Linked DNA regions of Homo sapiens. The protein of the gene in region 1 interacts with the protein of each later gene in a pairwise test. Each region holds a gene or a part of one and is shown in the gene's direction. Other genes may lie near its edges.

What was found. The genes of interacting proteins can lie anywhere in the genome.
Region 2: the proteins of SEPHS1 (region 1) and ZBTB25 interact in binary tests that used the Homo sapiens proteins (3 or more experiments, as listed by UniProt).

The regions. Positions count from the first base shown.
Region 1 is NC_000010.11:13,338,269-13,345,293, reverse strand, and holds part of SEPHS1 (selenide, water dikinase 1), read left to right. Parts: intron 1-265; 5' UTR 266-343; coding exon 344-536; intron 537-4,385; exon of another isoform or gene 4,386-4,603; intron 4,604-6,485; coding exon 6,486-6,589; intron 6,590-7,025. UniProt on the Homo sapiens protein: Synthesizes selenophosphate from selenide and ATP.
Region 2 is NC_000014.9:64,486,837-64,493,861, reverse strand, and holds part of ZBTB25 (zinc finger and BTB domain-containing protein 25), read left to right. Parts: intron 1-3,321; coding exon of another isoform or gene 3,322-3,328; coding exon 3,329-3,501; intron 3,502-5,804; coding exon 5,805-6,939; 3' UTR 6,940-7,025. UniProt on the Homo sapiens protein: May be involved in transcriptional regulation.

The DNA.
Region 1 (7,025 bases):
GTGTCATGTGAACCTGCAGGCTGGCCCTCTTGCCACAGTTAAAACCACAGTCCAGATGTCAGATTTTACATAGATGTCTGTGCTGACGCAGTCCCGTTATGAAAAGATCTATTTTGTCATATGCACTGCTGTGGTGAATATAAGTGGTCTTGATGATTTCAGCCCTTGTCACATTGACTTTTCGCTGTCATGTATTCACTTGATTCGCTGGCAGGTCCCAGTGGGAATTCTTTTCATGGCATCTTTGTGTTTTGGTGACACCCAGGTGGATCCATAAAGAACCCAGCCAACCCGCAGAGGGAGGGGAGGGGCTGAGCTGTGAGGAGAGCGGGGCCCAAGAACCATGTCTACGCGGGAGTCCTTTAACCCGGAAAGTTACGAATTGGACAAAAGCTTCCGGCTAACCAGATTCACTGAACTGAAGGGCACAGGCTGCAAAGTGCCCCAAGATGTCCTGCAAAAATTGCTGGAATCTTTACAGGAGAACCACTTCCAAGAAGATGAGCAGTTTCTGGGAGCCGTTATGCCAAGGCTTGGTAGGTAACCCAGTGTTTCTTTGATGGTCTGCGATCCAATCAGTGAGTCAAAAACTGGATTTCTCGCCTCCCATGTTGCCTATTTATTTTTTATTATTACTTTTTTTGCTTTTATAGATTTGAGGAATACACATGCAGTTTTGTTACATGAATATATTACATAATGGTGAAGACTAGGCTTTTAGTGTAGCCATCACCCAAATAGTGTACATCGTACCCCCTTTATTTTTTTTTAATTTTTGTGGGAAGGATTAGAAGAGCAATCAATGTTATGATTGCTATGTTATGTTCTTGTAACTTATGTAGAGAAAGTACTTGAAACGCATCAAGAGGGGTACTCTTGACAGTTTTTAAATCATGGAGTATGCAATTGAGATTGTTATTACAGTAAAAACTTTTTAATTTTTATTTTCAATTTAATTGAATTGAATTTTCTGTTAGCTGAAGATTAAGCAGAAATACTTTATTCCCTTTTCCTAAAAGGACTCCTAAAATGCTCACATTCCCTTCATTGCCCTAGGAAAGGCGGTTCCAGCCTTAGGGTTCTTGTGCTGTACTTGGATGGCAGTGACTGTGTCAGGAGGGCATTGGGGTTCTCTGCAGGGTGCATCGGGCGAAAAGCGTGTTACGGTGAGGAGGTGGGACTGCTCCAGACCCAGGACTGGATGGATCTGTTCTTGACCCCAGGATGTCATCTGGAACCAGGGCAATGTCTTTTTCTTTACTACATTCCTGATGTCATGAGTGATTTCACTTTTCCCAAACACAGAGCTTAGAAACAAATTCTGGGCTCCTGGGATATTGTTTATTCATGTTTCTTGTGCAGTTTATTAAGTACACAGTACAAGACTGTGATCACTTTTCTTGTGTTCGACGCATAGTTTCGGAGGTTTGGATGTTCGATAATTACTGTGTGACTTGATCAGTTTTCTTCCTTTTTTTTTGAAATGGATTCTCACTCTGTCACCCAGGCTGGAGTGCAGTGGCGTGATCTTGGCTCACTGCAACCTCTGCCTCCTGGGTTCATGCGATTCTTCTGCCTCAGCCTCTTGAGTAGCTGGGATTATAGGCCCCTGCCACATGCCCGGCTAATTTTTGTATTTTTAGTAGAGATGGGAGTTTTACCATGTTGGCCAGGCTGTTCTCGAACTCCTGACCTCAGGTGATCTGCCTGCCTCAGCCTCCCAAAGTGCTGGGATTACAGGTGTAAGCCACCACACCCAGCCAAGGTTTTCATTTCATTTGTTTTTGCCCATTATTTGGTAAGGTTCATTGGTTATGAGCCTGGGGTCTCCTTTACTCCCAGATAGAGAAAGCAGATAAAAGCAGACTTGCTTTTGTTGGAAAGGAAGAAATGTTACACCCCAGTCGCTGGTGACCTGCAGGACTTTGAGGAGCTCAGTTTGAAAACAGTTCCTGCCGTCCAGCTGATGGCCAAGCTGTGGAGAAATACCATGTGAGCGAGCTGGGTTTGATGTTGGCTTATTTGTCGAGAAATGAGAATATACTGAGGAAGCTGTTAGATAACTGTCAAGAAAAAAAGCTATTAATACTTAATGCTCAAAAACCAATGAAATTAAAACATTACGGCATAAAGTAAGAATTACTATTTATAACTTCCTCTGGCACAGTTACTTACTAGTCACTCATATTATGTCATGAATGTCACCCAGCCCTCCTGAGCCTCAGCTTCCTAATCTATAAAATAATAATTACTGTTTGGGGTTGGGTGCGGTGGCTCACACCTGTAATCCCAGCACTTTGGGAGGTCAAGATGGGCAGATCACTCAAGGTCAGGAGTTCAAGACCAGCCTGGGCAAAATGGTGAAACCCATCTCTACTAAAAATACAAAAGTTACCTGGGCTTGCTGGTGTACACCTGTAGTTTCAGCTACTCGGGAGGCTGAGGTGGGAGGATCCCTTGAGCCCGGGAGGCAGAGGCTACAGTGAGCTGAGGTCACACCACTGTACTGCGGCCTGGGAGACAGAGTGAGACCCTGCCTCAAAAAAAAAAAAAAGATTACTGTTTTGCATTGTTGTACCAAAAATGTGTGTAGGTGTGCCATGTATGTCTGTACTTACATATATAATACATGTATGTGTATACCCTCTGTACACAAGTATATATGGTATATATGTATGGGTGTTTTTGACCTTTTTTTTGTTGTTGTTGAGATGAAGTCTCACTGTGTCGCCCAGGCTGGAGTGCAGTGGCACAATCTCAGCTCACTGCAACCTCCGCTTCCCAGGTTCAAGCAGTGATCTCCTGCCTCTGCCTCCCAAGTAGCTGGGACTACAGGCGCATGCCACCACACCCAGCTAAATTTTTTTGTGTTTTTAGTAGAGACGGGGTTTCAAGGTGTTGGCCAGGCTGGTCTCAAGCTCCTGAGCTCAGGTTATCCACCCACCTCAGCCTCCCAAAGTGCTGGGATTACAGGCGTGAGCCACCGCACCCGGCTGTATGTTTATTTTTTTAACTTTTTTTTTTTTTGAGACGGAGTCTCGCTCTGTCGCCCAGGCTGGAGTGCAGTGGCGCGATCTCCGCTCATTGCAAGCTCCGCCTCCCAGGTTCACGCCATCCTCCTGCCTCAGCCTCCCGAGTAGCTGGGACTACAGGCGCCCGCCACCATGCCTGGCTAATTTTTTGTATTTTTAGTAGAGACGGGGTTTCACAGTGGTCTCGATCTCCTGACCTCGTGATCCGCCTGCCTCGGCCTCCCAAAGTGCTGGGATTACAGGCGTGAGACACCGCGCCCCGCCATCTTTTTTTTTTTTTTTTCCTTGAGATAGAGTCTCACTCCATCACCCAGGCTTGAGTACAGTGGTGCAATCTCAGCTCACTGCAACCTCTGCCTCCCGGGTTCAAGGCCCTCCCAGGCCTGATTCTCATGCCTCAGCCTCCCTCCAAGTAGCTGGAATGACAGACGTGCACCACCACACCCAGCTAATTTTTTTGTATTTTTAATAGAGTTAGGGTTTCACTATGTTGGTCAGGCTGGTCTGGAACTCCTGACTCTAAGTGATCTGCCCACCTCGGCCTCCCAAAGTGCTGGGATTAAAGGCATGAGCCCCCGCGCCCGGCCTGTTTATGTTTTTAACTTTTTTCTAATTGAATGTCATGTTTTCTGGCTTCAAAAATGGTGTTAATTGAAGGGTTAACCAAAACAGCTTTTAAATGTACACACGATTACTAAATGTATCCTAATTAAAGAAATGGTAAAAGAAGTGTGCCTTAGAACCAGAGACATTTGTTGCCTGGTGCCTAGGAGCTATCAAGTAATGATTGCTGCTGCTGGCGGGGGCGGTGCAGGGGTTGGGGGTGGGTAGTGGTGTGATAACTTAGGTTGTCTTTCTGATGGAGGATGTCAGTATTGCTGAAAACCTTCCAGCAAGTTTGCCCATTGCCTCCTGGTCATTAAACCTAAACTGTTCTGTCTAGTATTTAAGGCTTCCCCGACCCTGTGGCATTTTCCTCTGTTCCCAGTTACCATCCCTCTGGACCGTCCCTCTGTCTTTCCATTTCAAACGCTAGTTTTTCAAGGCCTGTGGGCATCTCAGGCTCACCCCTTCTCTCTTCCTTCCTTGAAATGTGATTGGTGATTTCTAAACCAATCACTGTAGACCAGTGCTGTCCAAAAATACAATGCAAGCCACATGCGTAATTTTCAAATTCAAAGTAATATTTTTAAAAACCCGATAACAAAAATCAGGTGGAATTAATTATAATCTATTTTATTTAACACAATATATAAAAATGTCTTTTCAGTATGTATATATACGACATTATTAATGAGATGTTGGTTTTTGGTACTAGGTGTTTAAAATCAGTTGTCTGTTTTGTACTTACAGCACCTGTTTGTCAGATGCGCAGCCACCCCCTGTGTCTAGTGTCAACCACATTGGACAGCACCAGACCCTATTCTAGTAGACTGTGGTGGCACAGGTGTGAAAGAGAAACCGTGGATAACGGAGCTGCTTTTCAGCCCTAGGGGCGTGCTCAAGAATCCCCCGTTACTCTGATCAAAGGACTTGCTAAGTTTAGAAATAAAGCGCTTTACAAATCAAATGTATGTAATTCAAATTTAAGATTATTCAAATTAAGAACATTTAAAGCTAACATTCAGCAACAATTTTAGTTTCTCTTTCAGTAGTCCTCCAGTTTAAATGGAAGCCTGAAAGAAAACTGCCTCTTACTGTTTTCCAAAGTGAATAATAATATACTCAGAATAACCAGTTGTCAGAATTATCCATTTAGGGAGAATCCATTGAGTTAAAGAGTGGTATTTCTATTTAGGTGCTAAAGAGTGTGATGAAACAAATTTCTGAGAGGTTGTGCCCATGGGCTGTTTACGTGAATTATCTCACACGTTCTCCTCTGACAGATGAAAACTGATCCAGTGCCTGACATTGTTGAAACTTGCCATTCTGAACTTCACTTCTCCATTCCCTAAGCGAGGTCTTCCAGCAAGAGTTTCTGCTTTGTTATCTAGTGTGATAAAAATCAGCCTGTCTTCACAGACTATGGCTTTTTATTGAGTGAGATTTCATTTTTGCAGCAGGAAAGATCTGGTGCCTCCATGACCCGCCTCTGTGAGGTCTGCTGCTGTCATGAGACCGAGTGAGGCAGTGCTTCACGGCCCTTTCACTTACGCAGAATATTAAAGGTCGTTTTAGTGCGATTCAGATATGATTTAAACTTGTTTGAAATTCTGAATTTATAGGGTAGATTCAGGCACATAATTTGCTTCCTTTTGTCCTAATTCTGGCTTTTTCCCTGCTTTTGGCTATTGGGCTGCAAAGTAGAAGTACAGCATCCCCCTCTGTATCTGCAGAATCCTCGTGGGGGATTCAACCAACCACAGACTGAAAATATGCAGGGAAAGAAGTGGATGGTTGCATCTCAACATGCACAGACTTTTTTTTGTCTTGTCATTATTCCCTAAACAGTACAGCATAACAAATATTTACATCGCATTCACATCGTATTGGGTGTCATAGGTGATCTAGAGATGATTTAAGGTATGTGAGAAGATGTGTGTAGGTTATATGCAAATATTGGGACATTTCAAATCAGGGATTTGAGCATCTGTGGATGTTGGTGTCTGTGGGAGTCCTGGAACCAGTCCCCCACAGATACCAAGGAACAGCTGTCCTCATAAGAGGACAGAAGAGTGTCCTTCTGAGGGGTGTAGGGCTGCTCACTGTGTTCAGCTTTCTTGGTGGGAATGCTAGTCTGAGTTTGTAAAATGCCTGCATTACAAGTAATTTTTAAAGGAGTACAGCCTTATCTCCAAGACAAGGAGTAGCGTATCTTGACTACTACTGGTGGTCTTGGGACTCCTCTGACATAGATGCCAGAGTGTTTATATCCAGGCTTGATTGGAAATTTCCATTGAATTGTAGATTGGGATTTGTCCTTTCATTTCATCTGTGTGTGTGTCATTTTCACTTTTGACTAAAATGTATAAGTAATAATAGCATTTTTCAATGTAAAAATATTTTACATGGTTTCTGATGGGACAATACGATAATGTCTGTAAAGATGTACGCACAATAACTATACTTAAGATAACCCAAGTTCCATTTATAGGATTCTCATCTTCAAAGAAATTGTATACGGTACCAGTCACACGCTACAGTAATACAGTAAAATAATAAAAGTCATACAGTGAAAAAGATTTTTATTCAAGGCATCATTAAGGATTAAAACTATGCCATATTGGAGTTGAGTCTTGATGAGTAACATTTTCATTGGTATTTTCCATCCTAAGCTGGATATGTTTCACGTTTATTTCAGTTACGCTTCTTGATAGGAAACACATGGCTTCATTGGCAGCCTGCAGTTTCCATAAGTATCTTATGAGCTCTTCCTGTTCAGAGCACTGGTGATATAAAATGAAATGGCTTTCCCGTTTTATTTTTGGATGCTAATGACTTCCATCTCCACAGGCATTGGAATGGATACTTGTGTCATTCCTTTGAGGCACGGTGGGCTTTCCTTGGTTCAAACCACAGATTACATTTACCCGATCGTAGACGACCCTTACATGATGGTAAGCGTGAGCCGATGTGTTTTTGTGACTGGAAGGGCTTATTTGTTTGGTTTGGGTTGTGGCTGGGGTTTTGTATGTATCTGTGGGGTTTTGGTTTTATTTCTGTTATATCCCGACTATACTGCCCCACCCTGCCCAGACTCCTGCAGTTGCTGAAGTCAGGCCTGTCCCCTGCCCACACTTGGCACTGGGCATAAAGCAATTAGGGAGGAAGCAGGGAAGGCCCTCTGCTGCTGTTGCAACTGAGTACATGCTGTGAGTAAGAACACCTCTTGTTTAGTAGCATGTCAATGGCCTGTTTTTGTCATTTTCTTCTTTCTTGCACCTTCTCTTCTTTGACATTGGTAACCTCCATCACCCCTGTGTTTTAGGCTGGAGATGTTACTGTCCTCTGTAATAGGACTGATCCTAAATGTTTCCTTCAAGAGATTAAGGA
Region 2 (7,025 bases), on another chromosome or scaffold:
TTCTTTTTTTTTTTTTTGAGGTGGGGTCTCAGAACCTCTTATCAAGACGGTTTCTGTACTTCTTCTCTAATGTTCTGGGACTCTGCCTTTATATCAACACCTAGCACATGGCAGTTACTCTGAAAATGTAATCTGAAGGAATGGATGAATTCTTCCAATTACCCAAGCTGGAATTCTGAGACTCACCTTTGATTTGATCTCTGTGGTGACAAGTCATGTCAGTTTTGTGTCTGATGTATCTCTTGTATTCCTTCCTTCATTCCCACTGCGATTACTTTGATACCATAGTAGGCTCCTAGCCAGTCTTTCTCCATGCCTTTTCCCTTGCTAATATTTTTTATATGTTGCTGTTAGAGCAGTCTTTACTCACGCCTAATGATGGTGATGATGATAATGCCTAGTATTTATTAGGCACTAACTGTGGGCCCACTGTTTCTAAGTGCATTATATCATTAAATTCAAATAACCTATAAGTTAGATACTGTCATTGTCCATATTTTATAAGTGAAATGGAGGCCCAGAGAGTTAAGTGTCTTGCCAAGACCACGCAGCTAGTAAATGGCAGAGCTAAAATTTTAAGCTGTCTGATTTTAGTTCAAGCTTTAACTACCACGCTCTGTTCTCCCTCCCACAGAGTAAGTTAACTGATCATGCTGTTCTTACTCAAACATCTTACATAGTTCACTTCAAACACGACACTACTTTTTAGTCTTATATTCTGTATGCTTTTTGAACTGACCACATTTCATTATTTCTGTTACTTTTTTTTTCTATGCCAAGCTGAATCCTTCTGTTATCTAACTATTCATATTCTTCCCAGTAATTTTATTCATTTTATTTTTTCTGCCTGGCCTTGTTTCCCATCAAGTTGCCTGTGTTTATCTCCCTCTGATAGCATGTTCTCTAACTGCTCTGTGCTACTGAATGCATTTATTTCATATTATAATTATGGTTTGATGTTTTATCTTTCCTGTGAGCCTGTAATCTTGAGTGTAGCATCTTGTCATTTTTTTCTGTCTCCACGCCTTGTACAATGCAGGCTTTTACACATTTTTTCTTTATTAAATTGCTCTTCAAAAATATCTGTTGAATAAGTGAAGAATTTAACTGTTACCAACAGACCATTAACCATAAGATTCCTGTATGGGTGGCTTATTAGTGTGCTATGTCTCATTTCCCTATGGTTCAGTAGTTCAATATAATGGGAAGAACTGGTGAAAATGTTTATGATCCGAGGGTTTGGTTTTGTTTTTTTTTTTTGAGACAACTTATCAGGCTAGTTTAAGATGCTTCAATATGAACCATTTCATTGATTCTAAGACACGTTTTTCACATGCTGAAATTGTCAATACAGATTTTTAGTTTGTTAGGCCGGGCACGGTGGCTCATGCCTTTAGGAGGCTGAGGTGGGCAGATCACCTGAGGTCAGGAGTTTGAGACCAGCCTGGCCAACATGGTGAACTCCCGTCTCTACTAAAAATACAAAAATTAGCTGGGCATGGTGGCGGGCACCTGTAATGCCAGCTACTTGGGAGGCTGAGGCAGGAGAATCGCTTAAACCCAGGAGGCGGAGGTTGCAGTAAGCCGAGATGGAGCCGTTGCACTCCAGCCTGGTCAACAAGAGCAAAACTCCGTCTCAAATAATAATAATAATAATAATAATATAACTTGGGGATTATTCCACATCAGTACATTAAATATGTAGTTTTAATAGAGTCTGCCTTTTTTTTTTTTTTTTTTTTTTGAGATAGGGTCTTGCTCTGTCACCCAGGGTGAAGTGCAGTGGCATGATCATGGCTTACTGTAGCCTCAATCTTCCTGGCTAAAGCTATCCTCCTGTCACATCCACCCAAGTAGCTGGGACTAAAGCATGCACCACCGTGCCTGGCTAATTTTTGACACATAGGAAGCACTATAAAATGTTAGCTATATTTATTATATTACTGATCACTTAGCTGTCTGCTGCCCAAGCCACTGCCAATCTTTAGACGGCTAACCCTGCATTACATCACTGACCTCCTTAGACCTTGGTCTGGCTGGCTGGTGTGGAAACCTCATTCTCTTTTTCAGTGTCTGCTCTTTCAAAGGATGTTCTCCTGGCCACCCAATGATGCCCTTTATACTACAGCTACCTTCTGCCTAAAGTACCAGGGCTCTCTCCACAGTAGGGTAGAGAAGATGATGTACAGTCTGCCACCTGCCTGAAACCAGGGCACTTCTGAATGTTTTTGCTGCTTATACTCGGCTTCTTGGCCAGAATTCTGCATGTTCTTCCTCATATAGGCTTCCCCGCAGTTGTTCCACCTTGCCTTTTACTTCCTTTGGGAACCTACATTATAATATGCGTCTGAATCCAGTTGAGATCAGTTCTTTCTTTTGTGTGTGTGTGTGTGTTTTTGAGACAGAGTCTCACTGTTGCCCAGGCTGGAGTGCAGTGGTGTGATCACAGCTCACTGCAGCCTTGACCTCCCAGTCTTAAGTGATCCTCCTGCCTCAGCCCCTCAAGTAGTTGGGAGTACAGGTGCATGCCACCATACCTAGCTAATTGTTTTATTTTTTGTGGAGATGACGTTTCACTATATTGCTCAGGTTGGTCTCCAATACCTGGGCTCAAGCAACCCTCCTGCCTCATCCTCCCAAGGTGCTGGGATTACAGGCATGAGCCACTGCGCCAGCTTAAGTTCTTTCTCAGGAGGCTCTTGGGCCACAAGTAAATTGGGGATGTGGCTTGACATCTATTTTAAGAGTTCCTGAGCTACTGTGATGATAAGTCCCCCAAACATTTGATGAGAGTTGGGAAGCCAGTATCCCCTGAGCACCAGAGGATCCCTGAGGAGGAGTGACATCTCTAGCTCAGCCAGGATACCGTGTTATGTTATTAACATTTATAGCTAACATCGAATAGCAGTTTCCATTACAACATGATTTTCACATAAGTTATTTAACTCTGAGGCAGGAATCAGTATCTCATTTTCATTTTTCTAATGAGGAAACAAGATTAGAAACATTGTGTTCACATAGATGGAAAAGGACAGGTCTGTCTTCATGTGTCACTCATACCAAGCTATCTTCTTACCAGATGAAAAAGGGTCATATTTTATGGTTCAGCAGAGTTTATATCAGTTGTCATAATGGAGGAATTTAGTGTTAGCCGTGTTTGCAGTGAAAGTAATAGGATTGAAAACTTGAATAATTTCATTTAAATTTAGATCTCCTTGTTACTCTGTAGGTTTGTGTGAACTGTAGACAATTTTGTATTAATAAAAAATAATGCGTATATACATACACACCTATCTACATTTATCTTGTCCTTTTTTTCAGAACCACAATGGACACTGCCAGCCATAGCCTTGTTCTTCTCCAGCAGCTGAACATGCAGCGAGAATTTGGTTTTCTGTGTGATTGCACAGTTGCAATTGGAGATGTTTACTTCAAAGCCCACAGAGCAGTGCTTGCTGCTTTTTCTAACTATTTCAAGATGATATTTATTCACCAAACAAGGTAAGGATGTGTTTTTGTAAATAAGAATTTTTAATATTGTGATTTATATAAGCTTTATTATAGTATCATTTTGGAAATTCTTTGTTACGGAGTCACACTAAGAAGTAAAATTATAATTTTTTTTTTTTTTTTTTTTTTTTTTTTTTTTTTTTGGCGACAGAGTCTTGCTCTGTCACCCAGGCTGGAGTGCAATGGTTCAGTGTCGGCTCACTGCAACCTCTGCCTCCCAGGTACAAGCGATTCTCCTGCCTCAGCCTCCCGAGTACCTGGGATTACAGGCGCCTGCCACCACGCCCGGTTAATTTTTGTATTTTTAGTAGAGGCAGGGTTTCACCATGTTGGCCAGGCTGATCTCAAACTCCTGACCTCAGGTGATCCGCCTGCCTCAGCCTCCCAAAGTGCTGGGATTACAGGCATGAGCCACCATGCCTGGCCAAATTATAATAATTTTTTATACATTAGTAATTAAACTCAGTGTGTAGGATCCATAATGGAAAATAAGAATGAAAATAAGAATAGCTAAAATTGGCTGGGCGCCATGGCTCACGCCTGTAATCCCAGCACTTTGGGAGGCCAAGGTGGGCGGATCACAAGGTCAGGAGTTCGAGACCAGCCTGGCCAATATGGTGAAACCCCGTCTCTACTAAAAATACAAAAATTAGCCAGGCATGGTGGTGGGCGCCTGTAGTCCCAGCTACTCGGGAGGCTGAGGGAGGAGAATTGCGTGTACCTATGAGGTGAAGGTTGCAGTGAGCCGAGATCGCGCCACTGCATTCCAGCCTGGGTGACAGAGCGAGACTCTGTCTCAAAAAAAAAAAAAGAAAAAGGAAAGAATAGCTAAAATTTATTGAAGGCTTATCCCATACCCAAGCACTAAGTATTTGCCCTATAATGTAAATTCTACTGCTGTCCCTATTTCAGGAAAAAGAAAACTGAGACTGAGTTAAGTAACATGCCCATGCAGGATTATACAGCTAATAAGTTAGATGCAGATTTGTCTGAAGCTATGTCTATGCTTTTAGTCACTAAGCTGTTAATTTTTGTTTCATATAACACTTTTGTTTTTTTTATTTTTTATTTTTATTTTTTTTGAGACGGAGTCTAGCTCTGTCACCCAGGCTGGAGTGCAGTGGTGCCCAGGCTGAAGTGCAGTGGCATGATCTCAGCTCACTGCAACCTCCGCCTCCCAGGTTCAAGCAATTCTCTTGCTTCAGTCTCCCTAGTAGCTAGGACCACAGGTGTGCGCCACCACACCCGGCTAATTTTTTGTAATTTTAGTAGAGACAGGGTTTCACCATGTTGGTTAGGCTCCTCTTGAACTCCTGACCTCAGATGATCCACCTGCCTCGGCCTCCCAAAGTGCTGGAATTACAGGCGTGAGCCACCGCACCCTGCTGATTTCAATAGGTTCTTTCAGAAGTTTTAAGATATCTTTATTGTGGCTATAAACATATAAAATTTGCCATTTTAACCATTTTTAATTATACAATGCAGTGGTGATAATCACATTCGCAATGTTGTACAACCATTACCACTGTCTATTTCCAAAACTTTTTTATCACCCCAAACAGAAACTTTGTACCCATTAAGCAATAACTCCCCATCTCACCCTCTCAACCCCCAGAAACCGCTAATTTACTTTCTATCTCTATGAATTTGCCTATTCTAGATATTTTATATAATACTTGTCCTTTTGTGTCTGGCTTATTTTACTTAGCATGATATTTTCTGGGTTCTCCATGTTGTAGCATGTATCAGAACTTCCTTCTTTTTATGGTTGAATAATATTCCATTGTGTGTGTAAGCCATCTTGTGTTTATCCACTCATCTTTTGGTGAACACTCAGCTTCTTTCTACCTTTTGGCTACTGTAAGTAATGTTGCAGTGAACATTGGCATACAGGTATCTGTTTGAGTCCCTGTTTTTAGTTCTTTTGATCGTTTACTTGATAGACTGTTAAATTCCTTAAGAGCAGGTACCTATTTTATTCATCAGTTTTCTACCGCTGGCATCTAGTATAGTGCATATCACTTAGGAGTCACTTGATTAATGTTGAACTATTCAGAATGTATGTCTGTGTTTCCTAACTTTAGGCAGTAGATTGAATACATGAAGACTTTTTGCTAGGCCATAAAGTTGGTATAAAATGAAAGTTTAAGCCTTTGTTGCCATGTTTTATTAAGGCAGATTGCTAGGTTCGAACTTCTTAGGAAGAAATTGCTTTAGTCTCAGACTATACTGTTAACTGAAAGGCCAGCTAGGTTGTGTTTCATTTCTTGTGGGTCTGTTTTTGTTTTTAACAGTGAATGCATAAAAATACAACCAACTGACATCCAACCTGACATATTCAGCTATTTGTTGCACATTATGTACACGGGGAAAGGGCCAAAACAGATTGTGGATCATAGTCGTTTGGAGGAAGGGATTCGATTTCTTCACGCCGACTACCTTTCTCACATTGCAACTGAAATGAATCAAGTGTTCTCACCAGAGACTGTGCAGTCCTCAAATTTATATGGCATTCAGATCTCAACAACCCAAAAAACAGTTGTCAAACAAGGACTGGAGGTCAAAGAAGCTCCTTCCAGTAACAGTGGAAACAGAGCTGCTGTCCAGGGTGACCACCCCCAGTTGCAGTTGTCTCTTGCTATTGGTCTGGATGATGGCACTGCAGACCAGCAGAGGGCCTGTCCTGCCACCCAGGCCCTGGAGGAGCACCAGAAGCCCCCAGTTTCCATCAAGCAGGAGAGATGTGACCCAGAATCTGTGATCTCCCAGAGCCACCCCTCACCCTCATCAGAGGTGACAGGCCCCACTTTTACTGAAAACAGTGTCAAAATACACTTATGCCATTACTGTGGGGAACGTTTTGATTCCCGTAGTAACCTAAGGCAACATCTCCATACACATGTGTCTGGATCCCTGCCATTCGGTGTCCCTGCTTCCATTCTGGAAAGTAATGACCTTGGTGAAGTGCATCCCCTTAATGAAAACAGCGAGGCCCTTGAATGCCGCAGGCTCAGCTCCTTCATTGTTAAGGAGAATGAACAGCAGCCAGACCACACCAACCGGGGTACCACAGAGCCTTTGCAGATCAGTCAAGTATCTTTGATCTCCAAAGACACAGAGCCAGTAGAATTAAACTGTAATTTTTCTTTTTCAAGGAAAAGAAAAATGAGCTGTACCATCTGTGGTCATAAATTCCCTCGAAAGAGCCAATTGTTGGAACACATGTATACACACAAAGGTAAATCTTACAGATATAACCGATGCCAAAGGTTTGGTAATGCATTGGCCCAGAGATTTCAGCCATACTGTGACAGCTGGTCTGATGTCTCCCTGAAAAGTTCTCGCTTGTCACAAGAACACTTAGACTTGCCTTGTGCCTTAGAGTCAGAGCTCACACAAGAAAATGTGGATACTATCCTAGTTGAGTAGCAGCTTCTCTTTCAGAATTTTTATACCAATTCTGAAAAAGAAAATTTGCGTGGCATTTTTAATTCATAAATTATTTTCCTCCTCAA